Linked DNA regions of Homo sapiens. The protein of the gene in region 1 interacts with the protein of each later gene in a pairwise test. Each region holds a gene or a part of one and is shown in the gene's direction. Other genes may lie near its edges.

The links.
Region 2: the proteins of DCPS (region 1) and CHST4 interact in a two-hybrid assay, tested with the Homo sapiens proteins (one large-scale study listed by BioGRID and IntAct).
Region 3: the proteins of DCPS (region 1) and GPC5 interact in a two-hybrid assay, tested with the Homo sapiens proteins (one large-scale study listed by BioGRID and IntAct).

What each region holds. Positions count from the first base shown.
Region 1 is NC_000011.10:126,338,444-126,342,096, forward strand, and holds part of DCPS (m7GpppX diphosphatase), read left to right. Parts: intron 1-3,272; exon of another isoform or gene 3,273-3,653. UniProt on the Homo sapiens protein: Decapping scavenger enzyme that catalyzes the cleavage of a residual cap structure following the degradation of mRNAs by the 3'->5' exosome-mediated mRNA decay pathway.
Region 2 is NC_000016.10:71,529,293-71,532,945, forward strand, and holds part of CHST4 (carbohydrate sulfotransferase 4), read left to right. Parts: intron 1-3,653.
Region 3 is NC_000013.11:91,447,053-91,450,705, forward strand, and holds part of GPC5 (glypican-5 precursor), read left to right. Parts: intron 1-1,708; coding exon 1,709-1,870; intron 1,871-3,653. UniProt on the Homo sapiens protein: Cell surface proteoglycan that bears heparan sulfate.

The sequences.
Region 1 (3,653 bases):
TGTAAGTGCTGGTCCTTCTGACTGCCCTCTTTCTCACGCTGGCCTGTCTCTAAGCAGATTATAATTAACCAACAAGGGTTGGCCTGAGCTCTCTGTGGGGACTGGGTGGATACCTGTCATACATAAGTGCTTTTGCTTTAATGGGTCAGCTTAAAGCCCTTTCTGGCTGTCCTCCCACCCAAGAGGTAAAATGGGGTGATGTTTGTGCCCATGACTACATAGGCCATTCCTTACCAGCCAAGTGGTCTGGGCAGCCACCTGTGCTTCCACCCGCATCTGGAGCCCTCGGGTGGGGTGTTTCCATTTTCTCCATTCCCCTTGACACCAGCAGATCCAGGCAGGCCCGTGTTCTGAAGCACTGGCAGGCAGGAACCATGGTGACCAACCCAAGGCATCTCCTCCTCAGCCCGAGCTGTGGAGTAGCTTAGCCCAGACTTCTACTCAGGCCCCTTGGCCCCGTGCCCTGCCTCCAAGCACCTCTGCTTCTCCTACTTTCCTAAGGAGCAGGTTTGGGAGGAGCCGTCCTCCCTCACAGGTATCCCTTTCCAGTTCCCTATGGTCTTCTGTCTCTCCCAGACCAGCCCACCACCAGAGTTATCACTTACCACCACCTCTTTTATACCTGAGAGTATCAGAAGCTTTTATACCCTGACAGGGTCAGAAACAGGCAGAGCCACTGTGTTGCAGAGAGTGCTGTTCTTAACACAGACTGGAACCTGGCTGTGCTCAGCCTGCAACAGAAGAAGGGCCTGGATAAGGCCGAGGTAGGCAGGCAGGCATGGGTGCTGGGAGCAGACAGACATATTCTCTCCTGCACTTTCACCTGTGGAGTAATCCAGGCTCAGATGTGCCGTTCTGCTTTCGGTGGGCCCGTCTAGTTTCTGCACCCGTCAAAGGCTGGAGAGACTCTTGTAGAGAAGGTGCCTTGGAGTGAGCCTCGTCTGCCCCTCCGCGGGCTCGCTCCCTGTGCTTTCCCAGTTGTGGCTGCCTATGACACCTTCAGTTTTGACGTGGGGTAAAGGGGTGGGATTGTGGCTCAGGGTTACACAGGCAAGTGAGCATAATTCGTCTCTTGACAAGAGGCTTGTGGGAATTCCCAAATGTGACCCAAGGGGTGGGAAAGAATTTGAAGGGATTTTCCGAAGTTGCAGCATTGATCGATGATTCCCTAGAGCCAAGTAAGTTCAAAGAAGAGGGCTCTCCTTGTGTGGGGCGCTGCAGTGAGAGGCTAAGGGGACGCCTGCATCCACTCTGCCCTTCCCTGCAGCTTCTCTCTGCCTGTGCCACCTTCAGGCCTTGAAGGAGGGAGCCAGGACTGGCTCTGTAGGCATTTGAAGAGGTAGGACCTGATGGTCCCTTGTCTCAAACTGAGTGGTGGCTCTGCAAACCCCCATCTGTCTTGTGGGGCTGCCCTGCACCTAGAGATCCGGGGTCAGAGCCTGGGTCACAGGAGGCGGGGCCCACCGTTAATGAGAATCCCAGCAGGGCCATAGAGGTGTGGGGTAGGAGGAGGACCTTCTGCCGCACCAGACTCTTGAAGACTGAAGAGCTTGCCAGGGGATCGCAGTCTTAAGGTCATGGAGGGACAACAATAGACTTGTCCGTCTGTATTCCAGAAGCCCTGAATGCATTTGAGCCCACGGCAGAGAAGAGAAATCTGCCGTCCTTCTGACCCCAGTGCCTCCAGGCTCTGCTTCAGCTGCCAGTGGAACCTCCCTTTTTCTGTCCCCTTTAAGACAGGAAAGACTTTAGGAGCTGCACTCTGGCTGCCAGCCACAGGGCTGGAATTACTTGTCCTCAAGGGTCATGAAAGGGCCAGCTTAAACGTCACACTTTGCTTCATAGCGATGCAGGTGTGGTCCTTCTTAACATTTGCTTAATTCTTTTTTTTTTTTTGAGACAGAGTCTCACTCTGTTGCCCAGGCTGGAGTGTAGTGGTGTGATCTCAGCTCACTGCAACCTCCACCTCCTGGATTCAAGCAATTCTCGTGCCTCAGCAACCCAAGTAGCTGGGACTACAGGCGTGAGCCACCGCGCCCGACCTTAATTCTTACTTGACTTTTGATGATGCTGTATTTTAGCGTCTCAAATCTTTGACTTGTGACAGCACTGAATTGGTAGCTCTCTTTGAATTAGGCAATGTATCCAGCAGGAAGATAGGCCATGCCTGGGCTTCTATCCTTTGTCTTTGGGACAGGGAAGGGCTGGGGATAGGGAGGCACCCTGGTGTTTGCTTTGAGGAGCTTTCCTAGCCACCTTGAATCTCCTCCTGCCACTGGTCCTGGAAGTTACTGTCTCCAAACTGATGCCCCTGAATTAAAGAGATAATCCATTTTTTCATCCATTCAACATGTATTTATCAGGTGCCTGTTTGCTAGAGACTGTGCCTCCTTAGAGGTTATAACATCCCTTCTTCTGTTCTCTTAAAGGATCACCTGTGTGTTCTTTTTTTTTATTTGTTTATTTTCTTGTAGGTTTAGTTCATGCATGTGGCAAAAATGCACACAGTACAGAGGATATTCAGTGAAAGTATGCTTCCTCACCCCACAGCCCTTCCTTTCCCTTCCCCAAAACAACTATTGTTGCTATTTCTTTGTCTCTGGTAACCTTTCTATATTGGGTATATAAACATATATGTACATGTATATATGGATACACATGCATTTTCAGTTCACATGATTTAAATTCTTTGGTCTAAAGTTCTCAGACCAGGCAACTCTTCCTTTGAGTCACCCCAGAGGTTAAGAGATGGCTCTCCAACGCTCCAGCAATTCTCTTTCTTCCTGCCAGGAAACTATTACTTTGATTTTACTGTCTTGACTTGTAAAAAGAGACTGACGATGTCTATCTGTCTTCCCAGAGTGACTGATGGGCCACCTTCTGGGGCGCCAGCCTGAGGCCCTTTCCTGCCCCTGGGCTAGCTTTTTTCAGATGACTTCTCTGAGCGAGGAGGCCTTTGGCTGCCAGCAGGAAATTTTGGGTCATGTCTAATATCAAAGAATGGATTATTTTCCCTCCCTTACCCAGCCTGTGAACTGACACCCAACACCATGGGCTGACACCCAGCACCAGGCTCCATGCCCTATTCTGTGCCAGTGGAGCAGAGAGTTGCGAGTTAGCGTCGTGTTTGTGATTTGTCAGCAGACATCATCTAAACAAATGTTACTATTATTTGGGAGTTTGGTGACAGTGACGCATAGAACAGCCGAAAACATACACCTTCACCACCACGTGCACACGTGCGCACGCACACAAATTCAAGTTCAAGCAATTTTGTTTCTGGGCTTCTCTTTGGACTCCTAAGTCCAAAGTGAGAGAATACATTTCTTGGCCACAGGCCATGAGAGAGTACACAGGGGACTTGGGGCAAACTGAGGCCTGGTGCATGTAGCTCAGCTACACGTGGAGCTTCCTGTGGGCTCATCTGCAGAAGGTCTAAGGCAGAGAACACAGATTCTTAGAACTCTGGCAGGAAAGAATGTTCATGGCATGTAAAGACCATGGCATAGTTGGATATCAGCCAGTCATATAGAAAAGCCCATCCTGAATTTTCAATTTGAGGCCCCAGGAAATGTGGTTGGGTGAGTCATGGTCCTCAAATTATCTTCACAAGGAATCTGGTAGCTCAGACTGCAGGGCAGGGCACTGCTGGG
Region 2 (3,653 bases), on another chromosome or scaffold:
TGGACCAAGGGTTACTGTGCCATACTGCATCTAACCCATGCCTCTGACTTTATTAGTAGCTTGGTCCAAGTAACTGAGACGGCATGGGTAATGTGCTCACTGTTCCATGCAATCACCTAAATTTTAGTCACTGATGCTGAAGAGTGTCCGTGTGCATTTCAGAAAAGGATACTTATGTTTCATTCTCTTGAAGGAGCTCCTTTAGTTTTCTGCTTTCTAGCAATTACTGTGCCTCTTCCCATGCTCATCTATTTTTTTTTTTTTTTTTTTTTTTTTTTTTTTGAGACCAAGTTTCGCTCTGTTGACCAGGCTGGAGTGCAGCGGTGTGATCTTGATCAGGAGATCAAGCCCACACTCATCTATTTACTCACTTACTCATTTATTTAGCAAGTGTTTAATGAGCCGAGCCCTGATCATTTGTAGAATTGTTATGTACGTGTAAGTAAGATAAGATACAGCCTTTCCCTTAAGCTATAGTGGCCCAGAGAAAAGAGAGGCACCCATACAGGCTTTTACTGTCAAAAGGGATGGCTGCTAACAGAAGGTCTGGGAAACAAATTAATCTCAAGAGGGGGCTGGGCGCGGTGCTTCACACCTGTGATCCCAGCACTTTGGCAGGCCGAGGCGGGAGAATCACCTGAGGTCAGGGGTTCGAGACCAGCCTGACCAACATGGCGAATCCCCATTTCCACTAGAAATACAAAAATTAGCTGGGCGTGGCTGTAATCCCAGCTCCTGGGGAGGCTGAGGCAGGAGAATCGCTTGAATCTAGGAGGCAGAGGTTGCGGTGAGCTGAGATCATGCCACTGCACTCCAGCCTGGGCGACAGAGCAAGACTCTGTCTAAAAAATAAAATTAAAAAAAAAAAGTCTCAGGAGAAAGAGACAGAACTTCTTTCAGGGAGAAGGCAGGCTCTCCCTTTCAGGGAGAAGGCAGGTTAGATTCTTGAAGGAATAGTAGCTGTCCTGCAAAAATCTCAGGGCTTTTAAATAACAGGGCAAGTTTGGAAGAACTGAAAGTCGGGAGCCTAAGGCACTAAAACAGAAGGGAGTGACAGGAAATCAAGACCAGGCCATGAAGGACCCCAGGTGCGAGGTGTGGGGATGTTTATTTAATCCCATATACACTGGAAATTTATTGAAGGATTTTTAAGCAGGAAGTTGATAGACTTATGCTTTAAAAAGATATTTTGGCCAGGTGCGGTGGCTCACACCTGTAATCCCAGCACTTTGGGAGGCCAAGGCTGGAAGGTGGCTTGAGGTCAGGAGTTTGACACCAGCCTGGGCAATATAGTGAGGGCCAGTCTCTAGTAAAAAATGAAAAAATTATCTGGGTGTGATTGGACACACCTGTGATCCCAGCTACTGGGGAGGCTGAGACAGGAGGATCGAAAATCACTTGAGCCCAGGAGTTCAAGGCTGCAGTGAGCTATGATCATGCCACTGTACTCCACCCTGGGCAACAGAGTGAGACCCCCGACTCTAAAAAAGGAAAAAAAAGATTTTGGGCCAGGCGTGGTGGCTCACACCTGTAATCCCAGCACTTTGGGAGGCCGAGGCAGGTGGATCACTTGAGGTTAGGAGTTTGAGACCAGCCTGGCCAACATGGCGAAACCCTGTCTCTACTAAAAACACAAAAATTAGCTGGGCACGGTGGTGGGCACCTGTAATCCCAGCCACCTGGGAGGCTGAGGCACAGGAATCACTTGAACCCAGGAGGCAGAAGTTGCAGTGAGCTGAGATCACTGACAGAGTGAGACTCTGTCCCAAAAGAATAAATAGTAATTTAAAAAAAATGAAAAAGGTAGTTTTTGGCAGCAGTGGGTCATGGGGAGATGCTGAGAGACAGAAGAGAAAGGTCGATGTCAAAGGCCACCCTAGACACAAACAGCTGGGAATTCTGGCAATGGGAGAGTGGGATTCGAGGACACTATTGAAGAGTCTCCTTCCATGAAGCGCCCTGGTGACTCGCATCACCTCGCTTCTGCCAGGGCCCAGGAGCATCTGCCTCTGCTGCTCATTACAGTCTTCAGAAATGAGTTTTGCCCAAGACACATCCTAAAGTATCCCCTGGCTCTCTGGTCAGCCCATTGTGTGTCGTCTAGATCCAGATGTGTCTTGGGGCTCAGTGACAAGGGATGGGACTTGCTTCACAAAAGCTACGCTTTCTACCCAGGGCAAGTGCTCACAGAAAGAAAAAGAAGTCAGAGGATTTCCATGGGAGTTCCTGAGAACCGTGGACAACTAACACCTGGGAACAACTGGGGGCAGTTAGGAGGCCCAGCTCCAGCTTGGGGAGGAAACGGGCTTCAGGCCAGCAGCAGTTGGCAGGCAAGGAGGGTCCAGAGTCACCAAGCCCCGCACAGGACACAGAACTGGCCCCAAGCAGGATGGAGGGAGGGAGGGTGTCACTTTGAAAGGTCTATTCTCCTAATCCCTAGGAAATGTTAGCTTTTTCCTAATTATAAGCCCTGCTTATAAAATTCTATCACCATTTCCTTATAACTGTATACAGGATAAGTTCTTCTCATTTTCCTCTCTTTTTGGTTTTGCTCCATTGCTTCCTATTTTTGTTCCAAACTTTTTCTCATACTCACATTGCCCTTAGGAGAAGCTCTTTTGCTAAAGTCACCTCTTCAGTCTTTGCGGGGAGGGAGGACATCCTTGGGCCAAGATCAGTAATAGCTTAGTTTCTAATCATTTTCCTCTTGCACTCAAGTTTTAAGAACTAGCAGCACATCTTAGCTGGTCCTGTTGTTTTTTTTTTTTTTTTTGAGATGGAGTCTCGCTCTGTCGCCCAGGCTGGAGTGCAGTGGCGCGATCTCGGCTCACTGCAAGCTCTGCCTCCTGGGTTCACGCCGTTCTCCTGCTTCAGCCTCCCGAGTAGCTGGGACTATAGGTGCCCGCCACCACGCCTGGCTAATTTTTTGTATTTTTAGTAGAGACGGGGTTTCACCGTGTTAGCCAGGATGGTCTCGATCTCCTGACCTCGTGATCCACCCACCTTGGCCTCCCAAAGTGCTGGGATTACAGACGTGAGCCACCATGCCCGGCCTAGCTGGTCCTGTTCTAATCTGCAGGGCTAAGACTACAGGGCAGGAATTACCAGTCATTGACATTTTCTGCCGTACAGCAAGTGATTTTCAGCCATGATGATGAGATGATCCTCATTGGATCTTTTTGGCACATCCAGAGGAAAAGCACTGTTATTATGAATGGAAGATAAGGGGTTTTTCTGCTATTGCCACCCAAGGTTTGGCTTGAGTCATTACATACTTCCCAGAAGGTTCAGGGGACTTCCAAGGAAAACCCACGAGCTGGCAAAGCATGCTTTCCCTTCAGGAAGAAAGCTATAAATGCCAAGAGTCTCCTTTGTGGCTACCCAATTTCTCTCCTAAAATCTACTCTCACAGGTCTCTGGAGCCCTGGACGTAGAGAATAGTTTCTGATCAGTATGAAGGCTACCTTCATACATGTGTGATCTTACATACATGTGTGACGGTGTGTGAACATAAAGGTCATCACTGAAGCACTTGAAATGGCAAAAGATTGGAAACAACTCATAAGCCCATCCATCAATGAGGAAACTGATTAAATAAACTGTGGTTAATCCATATAATACTTCTTCGAAGCAACAATGAATGAGGAACTACT
Region 3 (3,653 bases), on another chromosome or scaffold:
GGAGGGAGGAAAGGAAGGATCACAACTTGGAGGCCTTCACAGGCCATGTTTAGGAATTGGTCTAACACAACAGTGTTATATATTTAAATTCCAAAGAGATATTTGCTATGATCTGCTGTTATTGTTCTTTTTATTCCTCAGCAGTCTTTCCTACACTAAATATGTTTATATACTTTAATATTTATTCGTTAGTTCTTTTCCTCAATCTCTATTATTGCTTTTCTCTGGATGCTAATTCCTCAATCCTTCAATTTAGGAATAAAGCTGAGAAGATAGCTTTTTTTTTTTTTTCAAATAATTTTACTGTTTGAAGTAGAATTTGCTCTTACGTAACTTTAGGTAAGATAAGTGAAAAACGATTGCCAAAATGTTACCTACTGTGACACTTACGAATATTTTATGCTTCTTAGCCTTTGTAAAGTGTCAAAATTCTGTCATTTGTTATTTGTCTGACTTAAACTACAGCCAAAATCGTTAGAGATTTTGGTGTCCCATGTTGATAGGAAGCTCAGAGTGGTTTCATATATTTTCAGCTGACCCAGAACCAACTTTTGGAAATTTGAGACCTGAGGCCAACTCTGTGTGGAAAAAGTAGGAAGGGCTTGAAAGGTGGTTGTTATGTGCATGCGTCTTGTGTGTATGTCTGTGTGCATGCACCTATTTTACTGATCTAAAATTAGTTGATGAAGAACTAATGTGGAACCTGTGAAACTCACAGAGATTAAGGGCCACAATTCTTCTTGTTATTCTAAAGTAAGGAAATAACCGTATTAGGCCATTATGTAAATAAAATTGTCCTGAGCTTTACTTATAATCTAGTAGCCTTGGAATGCCCTGGGGCTCACATCAGCTCTCTCCATCAGGGTTTCCTCTTTGGGCACTAACTCTTTGTGCTCCACATCTTTCCTCTCTGTCCTCTAGCATATCTGCTGTGCATAAAGGTGCTTGTCCTGGGTCCCTACCAGGATGAAAGTTTAGTGATACTAGCAAAGGTTTTTTTGTAACCATAACTCTTACATTTCATATATTAATAACTTTACATTTCATGCAATATACATCTTCACAGGATCCTTCTAAACATGATTGTACAACTAAAAAGTGCTTTTAAAGGAGGGGATTGTCTCTCGCCAGCTATATAGTGAGTGGAATCTTGGATGCTGAGCTTGGGCCCATGGGGGCCTTGATCTCCCAGCATGTCATTATTGCAGAGATAGCCTACTTCACAAGCAGCACGAGCCTGATGGCAGCTGAGAAATCAGGTCAAGTTTTTTGACCTTTATGTGATGTTCAAAATTCAGTTTCATTTCCCCATGAAAAGCAATTCTTTTAGTCCACATAATTATCTATAACATATTTCTTTCAAGCAATTTTGGCTGAATTGATAAAATAAGCAAAAAACCCACAAAAAACCTTTTTCTTGATTGAGCGCTGTACTTCATAGTAGTTAATTTGCTTTCTATTGAGTGGAGATACTTAATATTTGACCAAGAAGTTAATATAATATTTGAGCAAAGAGTTAATGGTTTAGAATATTTTGTTTATGATTGTGTTAATGAGCAATAGATAAACTTTCTTATAGCAAGTACTCTAGCAAATCCATTCCTCACATAGTCCTTTGTGTGCAGGACTGGTCATAACGCCTGATATATAATATGTAATACTTGTTAAATGAACAGGTAATCATTCTGAAAAATGTTGTGTGTTCCAGGACCTGATCTTCAGGTTTGCATATCCAAAAAGCCTACATGTTGCACCAGGAAGATGGAGGAGAGATATCAGATTGCGGCTCGCCAGGATATGCAGCAGTTTCTTCAAACGTCCAGCTCTACATTAAAGTTTCTAATATCTCGAAATGCGGCTGCTTTTCAAGGTAAGTGGATCTTGAATTCTGCAACTAAGGACTGGCCGTGTTATGTAATTTGCCTAAGATAGTTACGTTGGCAAACTTGGCTGGGTTTATTTCCTTGTATTTACATAATATTCGGGTATAAAATGAGGTTTTAACTTTTTCTAGCCTTCAAAACTTGTTTCTGAGGTCATTGTGGGAGTATATACTGAGTTGGATTGGGGAAACTGAGTTGGACTGTTATGTTAGTGAAATGATCGTTGGAAATATATACTGCTATAGGGTTCTTCCAGGTCTGCCAACATTCTGACTCATAGCTGTACTTTAATATGAACAGACATAATTATTAGATTTCATGGAAAAGTTCTATAACATAAAATCTCATTGCTTTTTACTGGGTAATTATAGATTTATCTACTAAAAATTTTTTTTGGATGTCTCATAATTTTATTTTATATAAAATTTTACTTTAAATTCTGAGATACATGTGCAGAACATGCAGGTTTGTTACATAGGTATACATGTGCCATGGTGGTTTGCTGCACCCATCAGCCCGTCATCTAGGTTTTGAGCCCTGCATGCATTAGGTATTTGTCCTAATGCTCTCCCTCCCCTTGCGTCCCGACCCCGCAACAGGCCCCTGTTATTTGAAGAAATACTCTTTAAATTTCCTTGCTCTAATCTCATATGGTTTTCATAAGAACACCAGTGGAATATATCAAAGTGCAAGCAAGTCTGATAAATAGTAAAACAGGAAATGTTAATTGGATGTTTAAGGGTCATTTAAGACCAGAACTCAACCTTAATTCAAGCAATATGTTCAGATATAAAATTAATAGGTTATAAAATTACAAGGCACACTGAAAAATACATGATGTTTTTCTTATTTTAGTCATCTCTTCTGTAAAATTCCTTATTACTACAATAAAATAGCTTAATTTATTTTTCTTCTTATAAAGCATTAGCTATTCTGTATATGACTAGAATGAAAATATCTAGATTATACAGCTTTTCAAATTATTACCTTTGGTCAATGCAGAATATAACTTCTGTTAGTATTCCTTTTAAATAAGTACATTAATGTCAATCTATTTGAATAATTTGCTTGGTGTACATATATAAGTAAATCACAGAGCTCTTTAATTTTTAAAATGATAGTTATTAAATAAAATAAATGCAATAAATCAGAATAAAATTTAAGTTAAAGTGTAGTTCATGATGAATTAATGCTTTTTTGTAGAAAGCGTGAAATGTCAGATTTTAAGGTTTTATAAATTTAGCTGCTTTTTTAGATGCCTTACAAAACAACTTTATTTCTATTGTAGGATTTATTCATGTGAAATTGTTGGAGGAAAATTTACTGATATACATTTTAAACCAAGATTTGTGATTTAGCTGAGTTAGAAGCCGTTAACCATCTACAGAAAATTATATTTTCTTCCAATGAAAAGGATAGTAGGTACAATATGAAATATACATTTTGGAGGCCACGCAGTGGATATATCAGTCTGAGCAGAATGGAGTTTGTGATAGGTGGTCATATGCTTAAAAAGGTGGACTGGATTCATATTGAATCTTGGATATGTGATCAAGATAGAGCACATTACGTTCAAAGGGTTAGGAAACCTGGAATATTTAGACTTTTAAGATGGATTGAGGCTGGTGAAAAGTTTTGGTGATACTGCTAAAAGTTTAGTGATAACCATCTCAGTAGTAGAAATATATGTTAAGGAGATCGTCTCTATTGAAGTGTCAGCTAATTTTATGTAAACCTTTGTTTTCTGTTTACTAAATTTTATCTGCTTTA